Linked DNA regions of Homo sapiens. The protein of the gene in region 2 purifies or fractionates together with the protein of the main gene of each other region. This does not show direct contact. Each region holds a gene or a part of one and is shown on either strand. Other genes may lie near its edges.

Region 1 (6,956 bases), on a different chromosome or scaffold from region 2:
TTCGTAGCCATCAGTGGTGGCCTCTTTGATAAACACCTATAACACCTATAAACCAATTTAGCCCTATTTACACAATGTCTTCTACCATACATTACTTGTTTGGGATTATTATCTCTTCTGTAAGCTCCTTGCAGGGAGAGACTTTATCTTAAACACTACTTCTATATCCCCTTCCCAACCCTTTACCTAAAAAATGAACATGCTGAGTGCATACTTATTAATTGACAGGTGTCATATAATAGATATTTTCCACAGCAATTAGGAGAAAATAAGGTGTGGGTAAAGTAAGCTAAATGGAGATATCATTATGTACAACACAATAAGGCACAAGACCATAAAAGTGACTTTGAAATAACATGTTCAGAAACAGCAAATCAGTTTATACAGCATAATCATTTTCAGAAGGTACTCACAACAAAATTTATCATACTATTATTGCTTAGCTTTAAAATCCTTTTTTGTGTGTTCTTACATGAGAAGCTGCATTTTGTGCTATTCCTTAATGCATATTTCTATAATTATATCTCATGTCTTTATGAAGTACCTTATTCATACAAGTATGAGAAAAGCTATACTATTCAAAATCTAAAAGAAAATAAAAACAATGTATTTTTCCACTCCTCCTGGGTTAACACATACAGTAATTTGCTAATAAAAACAAAGGTTATCATCTGTCATACTTTTCATTCACACTCTTGAATGACAGGCATTTTTTTAATGTTCCTGTTAGAAAAATTCTGTGCCAACTCGGCTTTAAAACCAACTCAAACCAAAATATCCATCTTTTTCTCTGAACTTGTTCAATCTCTCAATCAAAATTATGTATCAATTATATTTTCTAAAATAGTTATGATGCAAATGAAGTTCTAATTTATGATAGCAGCAGCCTTACACTATCTTTCCCATTTAAATGCACGGCGCTAGGGAAGACAAAAGCATACTCTGAAACATCTTCACAGGTCCTCTAACAATGGTCTCTTAGTAGAATTTCTTCTCTCTTTGTATAGTTATATTAAATTTCTGTGCTTCCCTCCTAAGATGAAATCATCTGTTTATACCCCTCCAACAACTCAGAAGTGAGCTTGTATCCTTTCTCTCATGCCTTTTGTCTAAGAACACCAAAGCGCTTCGTTATTTTATTTTACCAACCCCATGAAGTCAGTGGTATATCAAAAGCTGGACGGCTGATGAGATAACTAGACAGAGAGCTCTGGACAGCTGACCAAAACTTAGTACCCCTCTAGGTCCTTAAAATCAGTCGGAAAATCAGCCAAGCCCTATTTACAGGTCTTGAGTGTTTTAAACAAAAACAAAAACAAGAAAACCTTCCCACAAAGGAACTTGCACACACACACACAACTGTACTTTTCAGAAGGTGGAAATACAAGGGATCTTGTTCTTTTCGTTTTTCAAGAGTTTAAAAGCCCGGCACATCTGCATCTTGATAACAGCTCCAGAGGGCAATCTGATCAAAGACACAGAAAATCCCTCCTTTAAAGATGTGCACCTTGTGACACTCCAAGGAGGAGAGATATTTAAAGTAAAACCTGCCCTGCATCATTATCACTGACTTAAGGAAGAGATTAAAAAGCCCTTGGCTTCATGTGGCTTTTCAACATTTTGCTGTAACCCCAGGGCCATAGATGCTGTTCGTGAAATTCTTCTACTCATCCCTACTAAGAGTGTCACAGCAGTATAAACTCATACACAAACACGCACACATCTCCACTTCCATTCCCATCCTTCTCGCTTTGGTGCCCATGACCCAAAATGTGGACACAATGTTACAAAAAGCAAAGTCATGGGGCAATGCGGGGGGAGGAGGGGAGAGTGCAAAGGATTGAAAGATCCAGAAAAGCAAGAGTGTGAGAGGTAGCCGGCTCGTCTGCTATTGTAAAGCAAGCATTCATTCGGGTGGGGGCACAGAATGCAGAGGTAGAAATAAAGCAATCCTGACTGCCCACTCTGCCATCCCATTCTGCTTCTCTGCCCTCCATCACCCCATCCGCCCCTGGAGGACCACCTCCGAGCGAGAGGGCGCCACTTACGGTTCCCTACCCTCACCCTTGAGGGGAAACAAGCGAAATGGGGTTGGAATGAAGAATAGGGCTGAGCAGTGGGTGAGGGTCACGCCGGGCTCCAGGTGGAGACCCTGCCGCGGGTGGCCGCGCCGAGGCACGGGGGACGGCCCAAGCGCGGGTGAAGTGGGGATCAGAGGAGGGTCTCGCCCCCACTGCTCCCGAGGGAGGCTCCGGTTACTCACATTTTCCGTGTCCCGCTCGTTCACCGTCGGCAATGGCGTCCGGGCCGACATTTTGTGCGGGCAGCGGGGTCTGGCCGGGGTCTCGCCGGCCGGGCTGTGGTGCGGGCCCCGGGGGGCGACAGGAAAGGGGTGCGGACGCGAGCACAAGGCCGGGGCGAGCGGCTCCCGCAGGCCGCGGGGCGGTGCAACAAGCGGCCCCGGCGGGGGAAAGAGGGAAGAGGACGCGGAGGAAGAGGAGGGGGAGCCGCTTCCCGCGGCGGCGCCGCCGGGGTATGCGGACAGTAACGAGGGAGGGCTTCGGGCGAGGCGGTTGCCCGGCGCTGGCGGGGCGGCGAGGCTGGCAGGATGAGGCGTGGAAGGGGAGCCGGGAGGCGGTGGCGAGCCCCGCTAGGCTCTCCGGACCATGGGTGAAGGTGAAGCCGGTGCCTCAAATCACTGCCTGGCTCGTCCTGGCGAGCGCCTGGGCGTCAGGAACCGCGGCCCTGACAGCGTCACCCGCGCCGCGCCCCGTTCTCCGCCTCAGGTGTACGGCGCCGCCCGACCCAGCCGCATCCACGCGCCCGGGGCCCAGCGGCGGCGGCGCCCGATCCCCCGGCGCGAATGTCTCGGCTCGGTCCGCGCGGTCACAGCCACCGCCGCCGCCGCGCCTCAGTCAGGAGGAGCGGCCCGAGCCGGCTGCGCGCGGAGCAGCGGGCGCGGCACGCAGCGCCCAGAGGCACTTGGCGGCCGCCGCCGGGTGGGCGGGCGCCAGCCGAGGGGGCCTCTCCATTCATTCCCTCATTAGGGATGCGGGGCCGCCTCCTCCTCCTCCTCCTCCTCCTTTTTCTCCTCCTCCTCCTCCCGCGCTCTCTTGCCCGCCTGTCCCTGTGTTTATTTTTGTTTCGTGCCCCACCCGCAGAGTTTACGGTCGTCTAAGAGCCTCTGGTGGTTTTATTTTTATTCGTGTTTGGTTTTTGCCGGGTTGAGGGTGAGAGAGAGCTGATGTGAATCAGTGGCTTTTTTTTTTCTTTTTCTTTCTTTCTGTTTTTGTTTGTTTGTTTGTTTGTTTGTCCGTTTCATTGGAGAAGAATTGGATTCAATCCTACCCTGGATCCTACCCCTCCTTTTCTCCTACCTCGGGACTTTTACCATTCTTAAATTCTACTCCTCCTCCCCCGTTTCCACGCTTTCTCAATCCCTATCCTCGCCTGAGCCCTCTGTCAGTCTCCTTCTCTAGGGAGCCGTTAGGTTCAGGGTCACCCTCAGAGTTTGGCAAAAAGCACAGAAGCCCCTAGAAGCGCCAGCAGCCTAGGGAGGCGGCTGGAGACTCAGTACAAGTGGGTCTCAGCCCCCGACGGCGCGGCCTCTTCGGGAATGGGGCCGGCGGAAGACGTCTCGCTCTGGGCGCCCTGCAGCACCCTCGGAGTGGGTGAGACCCGCGAGTCACAACATCTACACTGGCTGATCGTCACTTCCTGGGACACAAGGAAGTGTCACTTAGGCGAGCCTGTTTAGGGAGGATGGAGAGCTGTGTCTGATTTGGGCCCTGTCCTCCCTCTTCCAGGTGGCTTCCTCACACTTCCACCCACCTGCCTCAAGACATCCTGTAGGCACCCGCGTCTGTAGTGCATTGTCCAGGACCCATTCGCCTTTTATAAGCAAGGCTGCATTTTTTTTTAATCTCATTTGAGAGCTTACATTTTGCACATTCAGCCTGTAGAACGAAAACCTTATCGTCTCTCTATTCTTCTTTGCAACATTTCTTTTTCACTTCCTTTCATGGATGGGCAGGAAGACAAAAGGAATGAAAGATAGGAGCGGATACATTGATTTTCTGAGCTGCTTCAGTATGCCTCCAGTGGAATTCTTATAATGGTGGGAAATTTCTCGTCTCTTCTGAATTTCCTCCATTTGAAAGAAGAATCCCTGAACCAGATGGTTTTTATCCTGACTCATTAAAGGTTGTTTCTGAAAAGTTAACACTTGACCCTTGAAGCATGGGTCCAAAAGACCTGAAAATAGCAAACACAAAAATCCTTTGAGGAAAGAAGCAATTCTCACCCAGTCTATATTCACTTCTAGAACACCATCTGTGTACTTATTTCTTTAGCATTTTCTCTTGTAACCACTTACCAATTTCACAAAGCAAATGAAAAAAAAAAAAAAAACAAGATCCCTTTGGTGGTCATCACCACTTCTCAAACAGAATTTAGGCAGCGGAACTGCAATGCTGCCTCCTGAACTATGATGTGTTACTGAGAATGTCAAGCATTTACGTGCCCTCTGCAGAAAATCCTGAATCACCAAGATACATTGAAGTTGCAAGGGCATAATCCTGTATTTTTCTGGTTATTTTCTGGTTAACTATTGCGACGGCTGCCTGTAGGGGCTGCCATCACAGTGTCAGCGGCATCACTGACTGCTGCAGCCACACAAGGGTACCTAGTGTTGCAATAGTACCTGAGTTAACCTAGCAATAAACAAGTAGCTGTGAAAAGGCGTTCAGCCCCATTGGAATATGAATCATTCCTTCAGCTGGTAGTATGTATTTTGCTCTTTAAAGTATACTCACATATTTTTCTATCTTTATAATCGTGGTGACCCTGACAGGCATATTTATTTCCATTTTACAAAATTCCACTAAGTTAACTTGTTCAAGATCACAGATGCACCAGGTTAATAAGATACAGAAGAAGATAACTGAAATATGTGGTGCTGTTCAATCTTGCACCAGTCACAAAAACCATAGGTTCACCCCATAAGATATAATGGCTAATTCGAGACAGAGCTTAAAGGAGAGCCCCAGATTCTGGCACAGTGGCTTCCACAGATTTTAAAGTGTCTGTTAAAAGCCATGGACAAATCCCTTAGCTATATTTGCTACACAATGCTCACTATTTCACATATTGAAATTTACGGAATATCACATAATAATAGGAAGGGATATTTATTGTTTAAGTCAATCCCCAAGAACACTTCTAACAGTGAAACTACATTCAAAGAGAGTCATTACTAGGTAGCTCGAATCCATAATTCTAGCTAGCCAAATTGTTTTTTTGGATAGAACAATTCTATCCAAAAGAAAATGCCATTCAAATAATCCTTATTAATACCTAACAATTTTAAGCTTGGTATGTAGTGAAAACTAAGTGAAAATGCACTTTGCCCAGGTTAAAAAAAAAGTCACTATGTTTTTCAAAAGGAAATACTGTCTGTCCCTATATGAGCTCTTCTCCCCTTAAAATGGCATTAGTAGATCCTTAAACATGGGAGAGGAAAAAAAAATGACATGAGGCATTATTGTGATGGAGTCAATACTGTTTAACCCTAGTCCTTAGAAATGAAAATGCTCATGAGCAAAATTTTTTTGTGTTACTATATATAGCTTCTGTGTCTGTGACTATGGAGAAATGACAAAGGGAATATTTTAAGGCTTTGAGTAATTTTTTTTTGGGTTATTAACCAAATGTGGCATGTTCAATTCACAGGTTCCTAACTTAATGTGTTAGGGTAATGAAAGTTTTGGAAGAAAATTGAAGTACTGACAAAACAAAAGGGAAATAAAGATCTAAAAGGTGCTAAACCTACAGTGAAAAGTGGGAAAAGAGCATTGCCTACCGTCAGCCCTATGGAGTAGAATTTTTTAGAACTACCGGGTCCAGTACCAGTTACATGTGACTACTGAGCTCTTGACATGTTGCTTGAATTTTTAATTTGACTCAATTTCAAATAATTTACACTTAAAAACCGATTTGATTCAGTGACTGAAAAAATTGTGTTATGTTTGAAAGTATGTTAAGTATATGAATCTACTTTTTCAACTGTAAATTTTCTGAAATCTATATACCGATTAAGTATTTCTCATGGAAATGTATTACCTGAATTGGGATGTGCTATAAATATAAAATGCACACCACATTTTCAAATAGTAGGAAAAAAAAGAGAGTAAGATGTCTCTTTATAAATATTATAACCATTTCATATTGAAATGCCAATATTTTAATATATTAGGTTAAATAAAATATATTATTAAATCATTTTCAACTGTTTCTTTTTTACTTTTTCAAATGCAGATCCTAAAAAATATAAACTTACATATGTGGTTTACATTACATTATCTCTCTGTTGGACAGTACTTCTCCATATGGTCAAAGCTGAGAATAAAAAGGCTTAGTTGCTTAAGAATCAAAGGCCTTGATTATAAGCTATTAATAATTCATTCTGTGGTAGAGTGGCACCCAATAAATGCTTGTTGGGCACCATTCTACCACATGCCATGCTGTGCTGTTCTAGGGGAATATTCTTCACCTAATAGTTAGCGGCAGTCAGTCTTACGCATTCTTTTTAAAGAGCAAAGTGGAAAACATGTTGAATTCATACAAATGAGCATTAACAGATTGCAGTCATTTGTAAACAAAGAATTTATCAAATGTGACAGATTCAGCAGATTAATAGTAAACTCTTAAAACTGCACATGTCTTTATATCATGTGCTTTAGATGTATCCAATGTCTGATAGACTTGGCCAGTCAATAATTATTTGCATACTTTGTTTTAGGTACTACAAGGCTATTTACAATCTTTCATTTAGCCACACAGGAAAACTACAGGATAGACAGTTCGGTAAGGTAACAAAGAGCAGTCTCAGCTAAAGAGAAACAAGGTTAATGTCCATCAGGAAAGAATAATCAGTCCTTGTCACAAATAAACTGGGT
Region 2 (5,233 bases):
AAGTTGCCCTCTAGGCATATTCACGTTCATGAGCACAGGCACCAGAATGGGCTGAGTATTGGCATTTAAAAAGTTGAAGTTGGGGTTTGACAAAGTGAGTACAGTGATTCAAGGGAAGAGGCAAAGAAGTGATTATAATGATTGAACCAGATGCTTAAGCTCAGTAGTGAAAGGAATGAGGAAATGTCCAGTGTGGGAGACAGAAATAAAGATGGGAGGATCAATGGATCCTATTGTCAAAGGATGGATAAATTTGCAGTTGTAGGGGAAGTAAGCTGTGGAGGTAGAGGTGGTTGTCAGAAGCTAGGTTGAATGATACTGAAATTAGAGGGGTTGCAAGTATTGGTAATGGTCCATATTTGGACCTTTGTGTGAATGGCTAAGAAGGTTGGAGGACAGGACCATTGGAGGAAAAGAGCCTAAAGAACCAAGAAGCCAGAGTGCTGGAAGAATCATCTCCATGGGTGTTGAAATCACTAACATTTAAAAATGGCTTTAGAGTAGGGGACTTTGAGCCATTTTTTACTTCAAGAAGTGAAGGAACATGACCTACGGAGTCAGTAGATGACTGCATAATGGAGTCATATAGTCTGATGATATGAGATTCAAAGCTGGGTGTTTTTAGGGAGAGGAGAAAGAAGATACCCCAGAGGCCCCAATGAGGACCAAGGAAGACTCATGCAGTGTATGAGGAATGGGGGAGAATGGGGAGGGGAAGTGCTGTGTGAGAGGGTTATGAGGGAAGCTGTGTCTTCAGGTAGATGCAGATATTGATTAGAGCAAGTAGATGCAGGCAGCATTCAGAGAAGGGTTTGGGAACATGGGTTTTGCGGATCACAGGCCACATGACCTATAGGACAGGTTTCAAGAGCTAGGAAGAGTGAGGCATAGGGTCACAAAAAGGGGTATGCAGATCTCTATATGACTAGAATACAGGTGATGGAAGGGCAACCAGGAGTCTAGAGCTTTTTAGGGTGGCCCATTAAAATTAGGGATAAAGGGTACAAAGAGGTTAGTCCTGATGGTCCCCAGGTGGAATGAGGCTGTGAGTGACAAAGGCAAGGAGGGAAGAGAGAATCTTTTAAAATCCTCAGATATAATACAAGTGCTCAGAATTTAAAGCAGAAAATTATCTGAGGAGGCCTTCTCCTCCTACTCTGTTTCTAGATTTTAGAAATTGAGTTTACAAAGAGCTAAATGGTTCCCAGTTGTACAGCAACTTAGTGGATGGAGCAAACATGTAACTCAATACAAGAGGCCCCTTTCCCATTTTCTTCCTTCCCTTTCCATGTGTTTTTTCCTGCTCTTCTCTTTTCTTCATTTTTTCATGTCTTGGGTCGAATGGAAATTCATGAAAAGTATATATTTTCACCTGGAGGGTTGGGCTAATATTTACATAGCATGATCTTAAATTTTTAGAATTCTGACACCTAAAATGAGCAGTATTGTGTGTCCAATTAATAGACACATCTCATTCTCAAGGATAATGGAGTATATAGGCACAATTCAAAAATCCTCTTGGCTTTATATTTAACATGAATCAGCGCCAGAGTTTCAGTTATCAATATTAATATGTAACAAAATGTTCCTTTCTCATATGGGGTTAATCTCTCCCCTTCTCTGTCCTCAAACCACTTCTTTGAATTTACTGTGGCCGGCACTTACCTCATATTACAATTGAATGAGGCTGCCTGGCTGAGATATCTTCCACACCTGCTTCACAGGAGGGCCTCCCCTCAGTACAATGCCTGGAACCCATCAGTGTTTGCTGAATTTTTGCTCCCTCTAACATGGCAATCAAATGTTCAAAATGGAGAAGCAAGTGTCTGAAGAATCCAAATTTGAATAGTCATGGAGAATGGGCTCTAGGCCAGAGTCAAATGAGTTTGCTGCTTTCAGCATACCTGGGAAAAGGAGGGGCTCCGTGGGCAGTTTTTCCAGTGGCTTCATTAGGAACATGCTTCCAGGGAGCAGGATAAAGTCCCCCATAAAATAAGGTGTAAAGACAGATGGAATATCTTTCCTGAGGGTCCAGAAAGGCCTTTTATGATTTATGAGGCATGGACCAGTTTGGATGATTTCATTTTAGCACTTTTTTTTTATTTTTTTCTAATTTCAAAATCCTTTTAGAAGACCAAATGTTTGACCTTCCCTTCAAAAGGTTGATACCACTTCCATGAGTGTGGCCTGGATTTATATTGTCTCTGACCTGGGACATTTAACTTTAACTGGCACCACTAAACACCCTTGGGTTATGATTCCTGCCTTGCCTTCCTCTTCTCTGGACTCCAGCTTGGGATCAAGATGGTTGGCATTGTTAGGGTACCCCCTCTACAGATGACCTCCCACAGTCCCCCAGGAAGACATGGGATATTTTCACCAGCCTCATTCGCTCACCATTGGTACCTTCAGCAGAAAGAAATGAAGTCCTCTCCATTTTAACTTTGCTTCCAGCCTGGCCAAGAGAAAAGACTTTCAGACTTCCCTCTAAATCAGCTGCAGTGATAGAAAGCAGACTAGGTAACTTCAGCATGAGAGGGAGGGACCTCATTGCAGGAAGCAAAAGTCACAGTAGAGTTAAGACTCTTGAAAGAAGCACTTTTATTTTCTTGAAGAATTGACAGATCTCTGCTTCCTGTAATGTTTTGTGCAAATTTCTGACAGTGCTATTTTCCCTTCCCATAGGCAATGTGAAGTATTCATCCGGCCAACCAATGTTTCCTGACGTACAGTGTTGCCCTTTTCAGCAAATGCCAATTCCAAGTTCCATTAAATCAGAAGCTCCATGGCTCCTTGGCCCACGATGTTGAGTGCTGACTGTGTGTTCTACTGAAAGAGTAAAACACTGACTATCCAAAGAGAAATGGATATTTTGTTTTTATAATAACCATATATTATTGTTTTCTTCTTCCCTTTCTATGCAAGTGTAAATTAATGAACAGAGAGGTATTTGGAAATGGTAATACATTTGTCACGGATTTGTATAATGTATACAGCATTGGGAAAGTGGGTGGGGGCTTTCTAATATGATACCGTCTTTTTAATAACTATGACAAAGCTTACATAAGAATTAGAAGACCACTTTACATTTTTACATTCCTTCTGCTGTTCATATTAACCTTGCACAATTACTTCATTTTTTCTTTGACTCTTTTACCACAATGTTTTGGTTATTTATAATTTATCAGCCATATGTTTATCAGCCATATAACCAACTAGATCCCAAATAGATCCATGTATTTGTTTCCGTGATTTGGCCACATTAATAAATTCATAAATTTCAATCAAATATCTTATATATACACACATATGGTTTAAGCTACAGCCCTGTGTATGCCGTTTAACTTTATTTGACGTTGCCCACTTACTTCTTTGCTGACCACTTGGATAACCGTAATAAAAATCCTATAAGCCTAAATGGCATTTCTTTTGGGATATTTTTCCTGCATTTTATTCCCTTTTTATATAAGTAGGAATTAATTATTTATTTTATGTCTTAATCTATTTGATAAAGAAGACTACATTATAATAATCTCAAAGATCATATTACCAAAGGTTGCCCACTTGAGCATATTTTCATTTTGACACAGAAACAAAATTTAGTACAACCTTTCCTAGTTCCCATGTCTTGATTTTCATCATTACATGCACAGCAGACCTTTACCTATTGTGATACCAGAACACATCATTGTCTTTGGTTCCCTTCAAAGAGAATTTTATTGTTGTTTTGTATTTTCAAGTCCTTAATAGTTCTTGAAACTCCTAGTTGTTTTCTTGTTGAAAGCAGACACACATTTAGTGCACGGCTTATTTTACCTTTCGGGTGAAAGATCAGATGTTTTTATACCCTTCACTTGATCAATATATTTGGAAAGAATGTTTATCAAAAGTCTATGTCACTGCTTCTACAGAAGAATGAAATTAATGCTTAGGTGATGGTACCTCCACCTACATCTTTTTGAGTGCATTCAATTATGTATTTTGGTTTAGCTTCTGATTTAACATTTAATTGATTCAGTTTAAACATGTTACTTAATTAGCAAATGTAGAGGAACCAAAAAAAGGTGAAAATAATATGTTTTGATTCAAACCTAAAGACATAAAAACATAAAGACATTTTAACTTTGGGTTCTCTTTAGCTGGGATCTGGCCAGAAGGAGGCTTAAAGTTAGAAATTGCTATTATTTTAGAATAGGTTGGGTGGGTTGGGGGGCAAGGGTGTCTATTTGCAGCAGAGATATTTTGAAAAGAAGAAAATTGTTTTATATAAAAAGGAAAGCCATGACCACCTTTCTACCTCAGATCCATCTTCATCCATTGCATTGGAAACTGCTTTATGCTGCTGCAGTCTGCAAAGTCTAGAGCTTTTATCAGGCCATGTCATACCCAAGAAAGCACCTATTTAAAGAAAAAACAATTCCCTGAGCTCTCAACTCCAAGTTGTAGATTTGGTGTCTTCCTTGTTCTTACTTTAAAAAGTCATGTGTTAATTTTTTTTCTGCCTGTATTTGTATGCAAAATGTCCTCTATCTGCTATTAAAGAAAAGCTACGTAAAACACTACATTGTAACCTTCTAAGTAATAATAAATAAAAAGAAATATATTGCAGTAACAATGGGAAGTAAGTATGTAGTTCTTTTGAAATATGTGGTAAAGAACTAATCACAGACTATCATCTAATCTGGTTACATATTGTATTTTTCATCCTGAATAAAAGTAATTTTAACACAAGATGACTTTGATATTCTTCAGCTGGATTCACTGATAGAATGTGAGTTTTGAATGCACATTTATGAAAACAAGATATAGAGATAGCCTGTGTCCTGATACATCTACATTTTTTCCTGCAGTTTCTCTCATACACACTAATACAGTCTCCTGTTGCTCTCATTCTCTCTCTCTCCCCATCTCTTACACATACATATAATTATATGATTCTCAATTTATTTTCCAGATAGAAGGTTTATTGATAGAGAAAAGTAATATTGGATGTAAAAATGTGTACATAAAACCTGTTGAGTGTTTTAATAACTAGATGCTGTTGACATTAAGTTCCTTTCAAATGTACTTTTAGTTTCATGCTCTCAAATACTGTATGCTTTTTATCCGTACACTGGATTTTAACCACTCTAGTAGGTTTAATCAATTTCTGAAGCCATTCAGTGGGAAACAATGTTGAGAATCATGTTGCTTTATTCTAAAATTAAAAGCTGTCTATGAACTAGAAAAATCA
Region 3 (7,033 bases), on a different chromosome or scaffold from region 2:
TGGGTACAGACCAGGCTCCTGGGAAAGTCCCCGCTGCCATCTCAGTTTTCCCCAACCCCAACAAGGCCATAGCCTGGGAAGAGGCACTTTTACTACCACCAGAAAACAGAAGAAACCAAACTTACGGTGATCTTGCTGGCTTGGTTCAGGGCTTCAACCCAGTCCTTCATATCTTTCTGATCATTGGCTTGAAGGAAATATCTCTGAGACAGGGCATTGATAACTACAAAAGCCACAGAAAAGAAGGGAAGACATTCCTAGGTCAGAATACAAGCAATACAACAAGTCTCCACAAAGCTAAGGTGTTTGAGGGAGTGAGATGAGTGAACTCCACAAAGCAGAACAAGAAATCTCCCATGATGCTAAGTCATTTGCCTGGATATCTAGGAAGCCCCAGGCCACACCTGCTCACTCTCTTTCCCACCTTTAAAAACATCCCATTGGCCACAGGAACAACACCTGACCATGTTAACAGCAGCCTCAGTGTGCTGTTCTGCGGTGATGAGGCTGCTGGTCTGCCGTCAACAAGACACAACTGTGAACCGCATTCTGGCGGTGCTAATACATTTACTGTCATCACGGTATATACAGAATTTTGGACCCATGCTTGGTCTCCTCTGGCACAACTGGTCTGGACTGGGAGAGTTGTCTGTGGTTGGGAAATAGAACAAAGCTTTCCTGAGATCAAATCTGTGACCTTGGCCTCACTCTCAACCTGTTCTTTCCTCTGAGCATTCCATTAGGTCAACAATTTACTTCCACATTCACTATTATTACATATATATATTTTCAGATCTGATAACCACAAAACGTGAGAGTCATTTCTGAGCTTAGCTATGAAATTTGCAAGAAATAGAAGAATGAGCATGCCAAAGAAGTCTGAACAAATCTGAGGTGGGGAGACAGAATCGCTCAAGGGAATACTTTATTCTCTTAGCATAAGCTTGAACTGTAGGAGGTGAGTCTCATGGGGTAGATGCAGAATTCATCCGTTCATTCATTCATTTGACAAATATTTACTGAGCACCTACTATGCGCTAGGAAACATCTTTAAGTGCTGAGGATACCACAGTGACAAGGCAGAGGAATACCCCTGCCTTTGTGAAACTTACATTCAGAACCACCCCAGATAGGCAACAGAAACTATTTGTTAGCATTTGCTCATAGCACTTAGCACAGCTGTGAGAACATAGTAGGAGCCAAGTAACTATTTGATGATGGATTCACTGAATTCACTGACCACTTCCTGACTTGAGGCACCCATGCACGGTGACTCTGCCTCCTACACCATCCCCCAACATGTCACTATTGGGCAACTGAGACCCTTAACAGAATTCTCCTTCCTTTGTCTTATCCCCTTCCTGGCACTGCCATCTGCGTCTCCTCTGAGTCCTCCATCTTTTCTGAGCACAACATTTCTCAGCTCTAAAATAAGGTTCACAGAAACTTATAGTGGACATTTTGCACCTGCCTTGTGGCATCAAGAAAACTGAAATGCATATGGACAATTATTAAAAGAAAAAAATGTTCGAGATGATGGACATTGATATGGTTTGGATCTCTGTCCCCACCCAAATCTGTGTCCCTACCCAAATCTCATGTTCAATTGTAATCCTCAATGTTGGAGGTGGGGCCTGGTGGGAGGTGACTGGATCATGATGGGTCGTGGGGGCGGTTTCTCATGGTTTAACACCATCCCCCATGCTGTTGTGTCATAATAGTGAGTTCTTGTGAAATTTGGTTATTTAAATATGCATAGCACCTCCCCACTCTCTTTCTTGCTTCTCCTCTGGCCCCATAGAGCCTGCAGAACACTGAGCCAATTAAACCTCTTTTTTTTTTCTTTTTTTGAGGTGGAGTAGAGTGCAATGGCCTGAAATCAGCTCACTGCAACCTCCGCCTCCTGGGTTCAAGAGATTCTCCTGCCTTAGCCTCCCGAGTAGCTGGAATTACAGGTACTCACCACCACGCCCAGCTAATTTTTTTGTATTTTTAGTAGAGATGGGGTTTCACTATGTTGGCCAGGCTGGTCTCAAACTCCTGATCTCAGGTGATCTGCCCGCCTCGGCCTCCCAACGTGCTGGGATTATAGGTGTGAGCCACCAGGCCCGGGCAAACCTGTTCTCTTTTTAAATTACCCAGTCTCAGGTATTTCTTTATAGCAGTTCAAGAACAGACTAATATAGATATGCTAATTACTCTATACATTATGTACCCCATGAATATATATAATTATTATTTGTCAACTTAAAAAATAAAACTAAAACCAAAAAAAAAAGAAAGAAAACAGAAATGTTACTAGTCCCTGAACCTCTGTCCTTATGTTATTAACAACCTTTGCAGCAAGACCAGGGAAAACAATATCACTTGACGTCCAGGACCGTCACTGTGATTTAAGTCACTCATACTCACAGGGTATAGTCACATGTGATCACAGGACTGTCTCCATGCAAAAGAGGAAGTTGCCATGTCAATATTAAATGAGTCCCTCCCCTGGCTCAGTACTTACCAAAGCAAAATGGAGTTTTTGGTTTCTGTTTTGGGGTAGCTATGCTCACCTAAATCAAATAAGAAATAAAAGAAACATGAATATGTGTCTTACAATGTTGAAGATTTCTTATTGTGAAATTTCTCATATATAAAGAGTACATTAAACATATGTCTACATTTTTAAAAAATAATAATTAAATGAAAACCCTGTACTCATCATCCAGATTAAGAAACAGGCATTATCAGTCCTATTTCTTAGAAGCCCTGTGTGCCCCTCCCTGACAGAATCCCCACCGTCAGAGATAACCATTATCTTGAGGTCTGTTCATCTTTACAAAAAGACTTATGTTTATTATTTATTTATTTATTTAGATATAGGGTCTCACTCTGTCACCCAGGCTGGAGTACAGTGGTGCAATCATAGCTCACTGCAGCCTCCAACTCCTGGGCTCAAGTGATCCTCCAGTCTCCACCTCCTGGCTAATTTTTTTTAAATGCCCCTATGCCTGGCTAGTTTTTTTTAAAAAAGAAAAATATTTGCAGAAACAGGGTCTTGCTATGTTGCCCAGGCTGGTCTCAAACTCCTGGGCTCAAGCAATCCTCCCGCCTCAGCCTCCCAAAGTGTTAGGATTACAAGTATGAGCCACTGCACCCAGCTCAAAAAGACTTTTAAAAGCCACTAAGTCCTGACGAAAACCTATCCTGGCCTCATTCACACTAGCAAGATTCCCCTCCTCCCCTCCTCTTTCAACCGCCAACCCTCTCCCTAAATCGTTCTCCAAGCTGAAGGCAATATTGCTACAAATGCATGGATTCCAATCAGAACACTCAGAGAGATGAAGCAGCAGGCTGCTCGCTGCCCTCAGACACATGGAACAATTGCCTTTACATCTGCCCTGATGGCCTAACCATGAAAATAAGCACCTTCCAGGTGCCCAGAGAGGGGCTGATGGAATCGGAGAACATTCCTATATATCTCAGGGAAGGGCAAGAAACAGAGGAGGTATTTCTATACCTCCTGTTGCTGTATTTCATCTTGCTCTGGCAATCCTACCCCTGGCATGTACACTCCTGAGTATCTGCATATGTGAACTCTCATCATTCAGGCTCAAACAAAAGAAAAAAGAAAGCAACTCATATTCCACCACATGCCCACAAAGATTAGGGACAATCCTTGATGGAGGCTGAGCCTCCCTGGAGTGAGCCTCCACCACTGAGCCTCTAAAGAGACAGTCACCTTCCCATGGGTCCTAGGCCGGGGACTATTCACATGATGTCACAGTCCTCCCCTGAATACCATTCTCTCCATCCCCCTCCAGCCAAGGGTATTCTTCGACATGTCCTCCACCTAGGGGATCCAGGAGTGGTTCCCACTTTATTTTATTTGTTTGTGGGGTTTTTTTGGGTTTTCTTTCTTTGAGACAGGAAGCTGGAGGATCACTTGAGCCCAGAATGAGACCCCATCTCATTCTGTCACCCAGGCTGGAGTGCAGTGGCGCAATCACAGCTCACTGCAGCCTCGACTTCTCAGACTGAAGTGATCCTTCCACCTCACCCTCCTGAGTAGCTAGACTACAGGTGTGTACCACCACACCCAGCTAATTTTTCCATTTTTTTTTTAGAGATGGGGTCTCGCTATGTTGTCAAGGCTGGTCTCAACCTCCTGGCCTCAAGTGATCCTCCTGCCTCAGCCTCACAAAGTGCTGGGATTATAGGCATGAGCCACCGCAACCGGCTGGCTGCTACTTTAACGGGCAGCGTATCAGAAGCCAGGTGCTAAAGAAAAAGTCCTGAATTGAAATTAAAGTATCTTCCTGGCTGACAGCAGTTAGGGTCTAACAATGACTGACTCACCAGTCTGTCTAGGTTCTTACTCTTGGCTCTAAGTTCTTGCTATACACCTGCCTAGATTCCTTAACCAAAATTAATATTGCCCCAAATAAATGGGAACTGAGGTGGCACCTTATAAAAGATCAAAAGAAGGTCAGGCAGAGACAGAGAGTCTCAAATGACAGGTGTTCCAACTGAATGACCTCCATTTCCTGTTCTATCAAATAAGGGATCATAATATCGTGTTCTCACAGGGTTATCATGAGGGTTAAATATGATAGTGCAGGTAAGACAGTCATTCTTCCACACAGAATCTGCTCAACCCAGGAGGGATTATTTATAGCTTTTGATACCTCATTTCCTTTAAAGCCTCACTCCACACATCAACACAGGCAGTGTCCCACCTGGAACTACGGGCAAAATGCTGAGGGTCCATGAGTTTCTCTGGGCCTGCAAAACTGTATGAAACCTGAAAAAATTGCCTGGCCTCCTACATACAAAGTGAAGATGCTGTATCTGGTGTTAATAAACATTTAATTGAATGCCTACATAACATTATATCAACCTCCCTGACAAGTATTTAAATGCGTACAGGATGTTACGTCAAGTAAACGTCATTAATTTTTCAATGAAACATTAAAAAGTTTTTCATTTGAAAATAATTGGTACCAGGCCGGGCACAGTGGCTCACGCCTGTAATCCCAGTACTTTGGGAGGCCACAGCCGGTGGATCACTTGAGGTAAGGAGTTCGAGACCAGCCTGACTAACATGGTGAAACCCTGTCTCTACTAAAAATACAAAATTAGCCGGGTGTGGTGGCACATGCCTGTAATCCCAGCTACTTGGGAGGCCGAGGCAGGAGAATCGCTTGAACCCGGGAGATGGAGGTTGCAGTGAGCTGAGATCCCGCCATTGCACTCCAGCCTTGGTGACAGAGCGAGACTCTGTCTTTAAAAAAAAAAAAAAAAAAGATACCTTAGATTTTCTTAGCTCACAAGAATCCTTTTGTGCGTGTGCAAGATGATTGCCCAGAAATTAGAGCCAGTTACAAATTGGATGAGTTACTCAGAGCCAAATCATTCCAAAAGTAAAATGATTAAAATCCTTTCAAATATTTTATATATATATATAATAGCCAATTATATTTAATAAGGGATGTACATTTTGAGATGTGAGGTGAAAGCCACAGAGCCTACGAAAAACCTAAAAAAATGATGATTTGAGCAAAGGTAAACCCGCTTATCCCAAGTTCGGACACAGAGGATCCAAATTCAGTTGTGTGTCAACTCACAGTAAGAGGACGCTGGTGGCTCCATAACACAATAGTCCAGGCCCCTAGACATCTTGCTTCCTGGGTTTCTGACCCCCCCCCCCCGCCCCTTCAATCTGGACCACGGCATAGACTTCTGTCCTGCTTACACCTGAGTGTTAATCTGTCAGTCACTCATTTTCTTGCTTTGGCCCTCAGCGTCCACATTCCTGCAGTCCTCTGGTCCATAACTCCTGGTTGTTCTGCCCCTGATCTCTGCATAATCCTGACCACAGCAGAACTGTGTTTGGCCATCCCAGCCCTCAGAACCCACCAATCTCATCCTCCCCTTCTACTTCCAGCTTTATTTATTTATTTGAGACAGAGTCTTGCTCTGTCACCCAGGCTGGAGTGCAATGGCACGATCTTGGCTCACTACAACCTCCGCCCCCCAGGTTCAAGCGATTCTCCTGCCTCAGCCTCCCAAGTTGCTGGAATTACAGGCACGCACCACCACACCTGGCTAATGTTTTATATTTTTAGTAGAGATGGGGTTTCGCCATGTTGGCCAGGCTGGTCTGGAACTCCTGACCTCAGGTGATCCACCCACCTCGGTCTCCCAAAGTGCTGGGATTATAGGCGTGAGCCACCACGCCTGGCCCTTTTTTTTTTTTTTTTTTTTTAAGAGATAGGGTCTCACTCTGTCTCAGGCTGGAGTGTGGAGGTGCAGTCATGGCTTGGTCAGCCTCAAACTCCTGGGCTCCAGCGATCCTCCCAACTCAGCCTCCCAAGTAGCTGGGACTACAGACACTCACCACCATGCTCAGCTAAATTTTATTTTTTAAATTTTTTTTGTAGAGACAGGGTCTCGCTATGTTACTGAAACTGGTCTTGAACTCCTGGCCTCAAGCGATCCTCCCACCTCAGACTCCCAAAGTGCTGGGATTACAGGCATGAGTCACTATGCCCAACCTACTTCCAGCTTTAGAATGACATTGAAAAACTGGGCACTCCAAGACCCTTTCTGGCTTATTAGGAGAACTGCCTTTTCTCTGAAAAACTCCTATTTGTCACTGACTAGAGAGAGCACCACAGGCGGACTGTTTTAATTCTGTTTGGATAACAAATGCTCGTTTTGACCACAACTGATTAGCCAGCCTGTGCTGTGAGAATGCTACCCATGTGCTTATTATGGGAACTGGAGCCTTCAAAGAGACGGTCTGGCTTTGGGTTTGTTTGTTTGCTTTCCTCTGTTTATCCAGTTTTGGTCAGGAGGCATGTGAGAGTGCACGTGTGAGTGCATGCGTGTACAACCATCATTGGCCTCATGCCTAATGGCTTACCATGGAAGGGCGATTCGGCAAACCAACTCATTGCTGAATTAACAGGATCGGTTCTGGTTCTGCCCTGATTGGCTCACTGCAAGGGTAAGACCCTCAATGTCTTTGATCAGCTTTACAATA

The links. Proteins that work in one complex are often made in the same cells at the same time.
Region 1: the proteins of UTRN (region 2) and MARK1 purify together in Homo sapiens (affinity purification with mass spectrometry; 2 studies listed by BioGRID and IntAct, with this or other methods). This does not show direct contact.
Region 3: the proteins of UTRN (region 2) and PLEKHA2 purify together in Homo sapiens (affinity purification with mass spectrometry; 2 studies listed by BioGRID and IntAct, with this or other methods). This does not show direct contact.

The regions. Positions count from the first base shown.
Region 1 is NC_000001.11:220,524,181-220,531,136, reverse strand, and holds the start of MARK1 (serine/threonine-protein kinase MARK1), read right to left. Parts: upstream 3,002-6,956; 5' UTR 2,315-3,001; coding exon 2,264-2,314; intron 1-2,263. UniProt on the Homo sapiens protein: Serine/threonine-protein kinase. Involved in cell polarity and microtubule dynamics regulation. Phosphorylates DCX, MAP2 and MAP4. Phosphorylates the microtubule-associated protein MAPT/TAU.
Region 2 is NC_000006.12:144,848,304-144,853,536, forward strand, and holds the end of UTRN (utrophin), read left to right. Parts: intron 1-2,685; coding exon 2,686-2,694; 3' UTR 2,695-4,731; downstream 4,732-5,233.
Region 3 is NC_000008.11:38,939,314-38,946,346, reverse strand, and holds part of PLEKHA2 (pleckstrin homology domain-containing family A member 2), read right to left. Parts: intron 2,559-7,033; coding exon 2,510-2,558; intron 224-2,509; coding exon 126-223; intron 1-125. UniProt on the Homo sapiens protein: Binds specifically to phosphatidylinositol 3,4-diphosphate (PtdIns3,4P2), but not to other phosphoinositides. May recruit other proteins to the plasma membrane.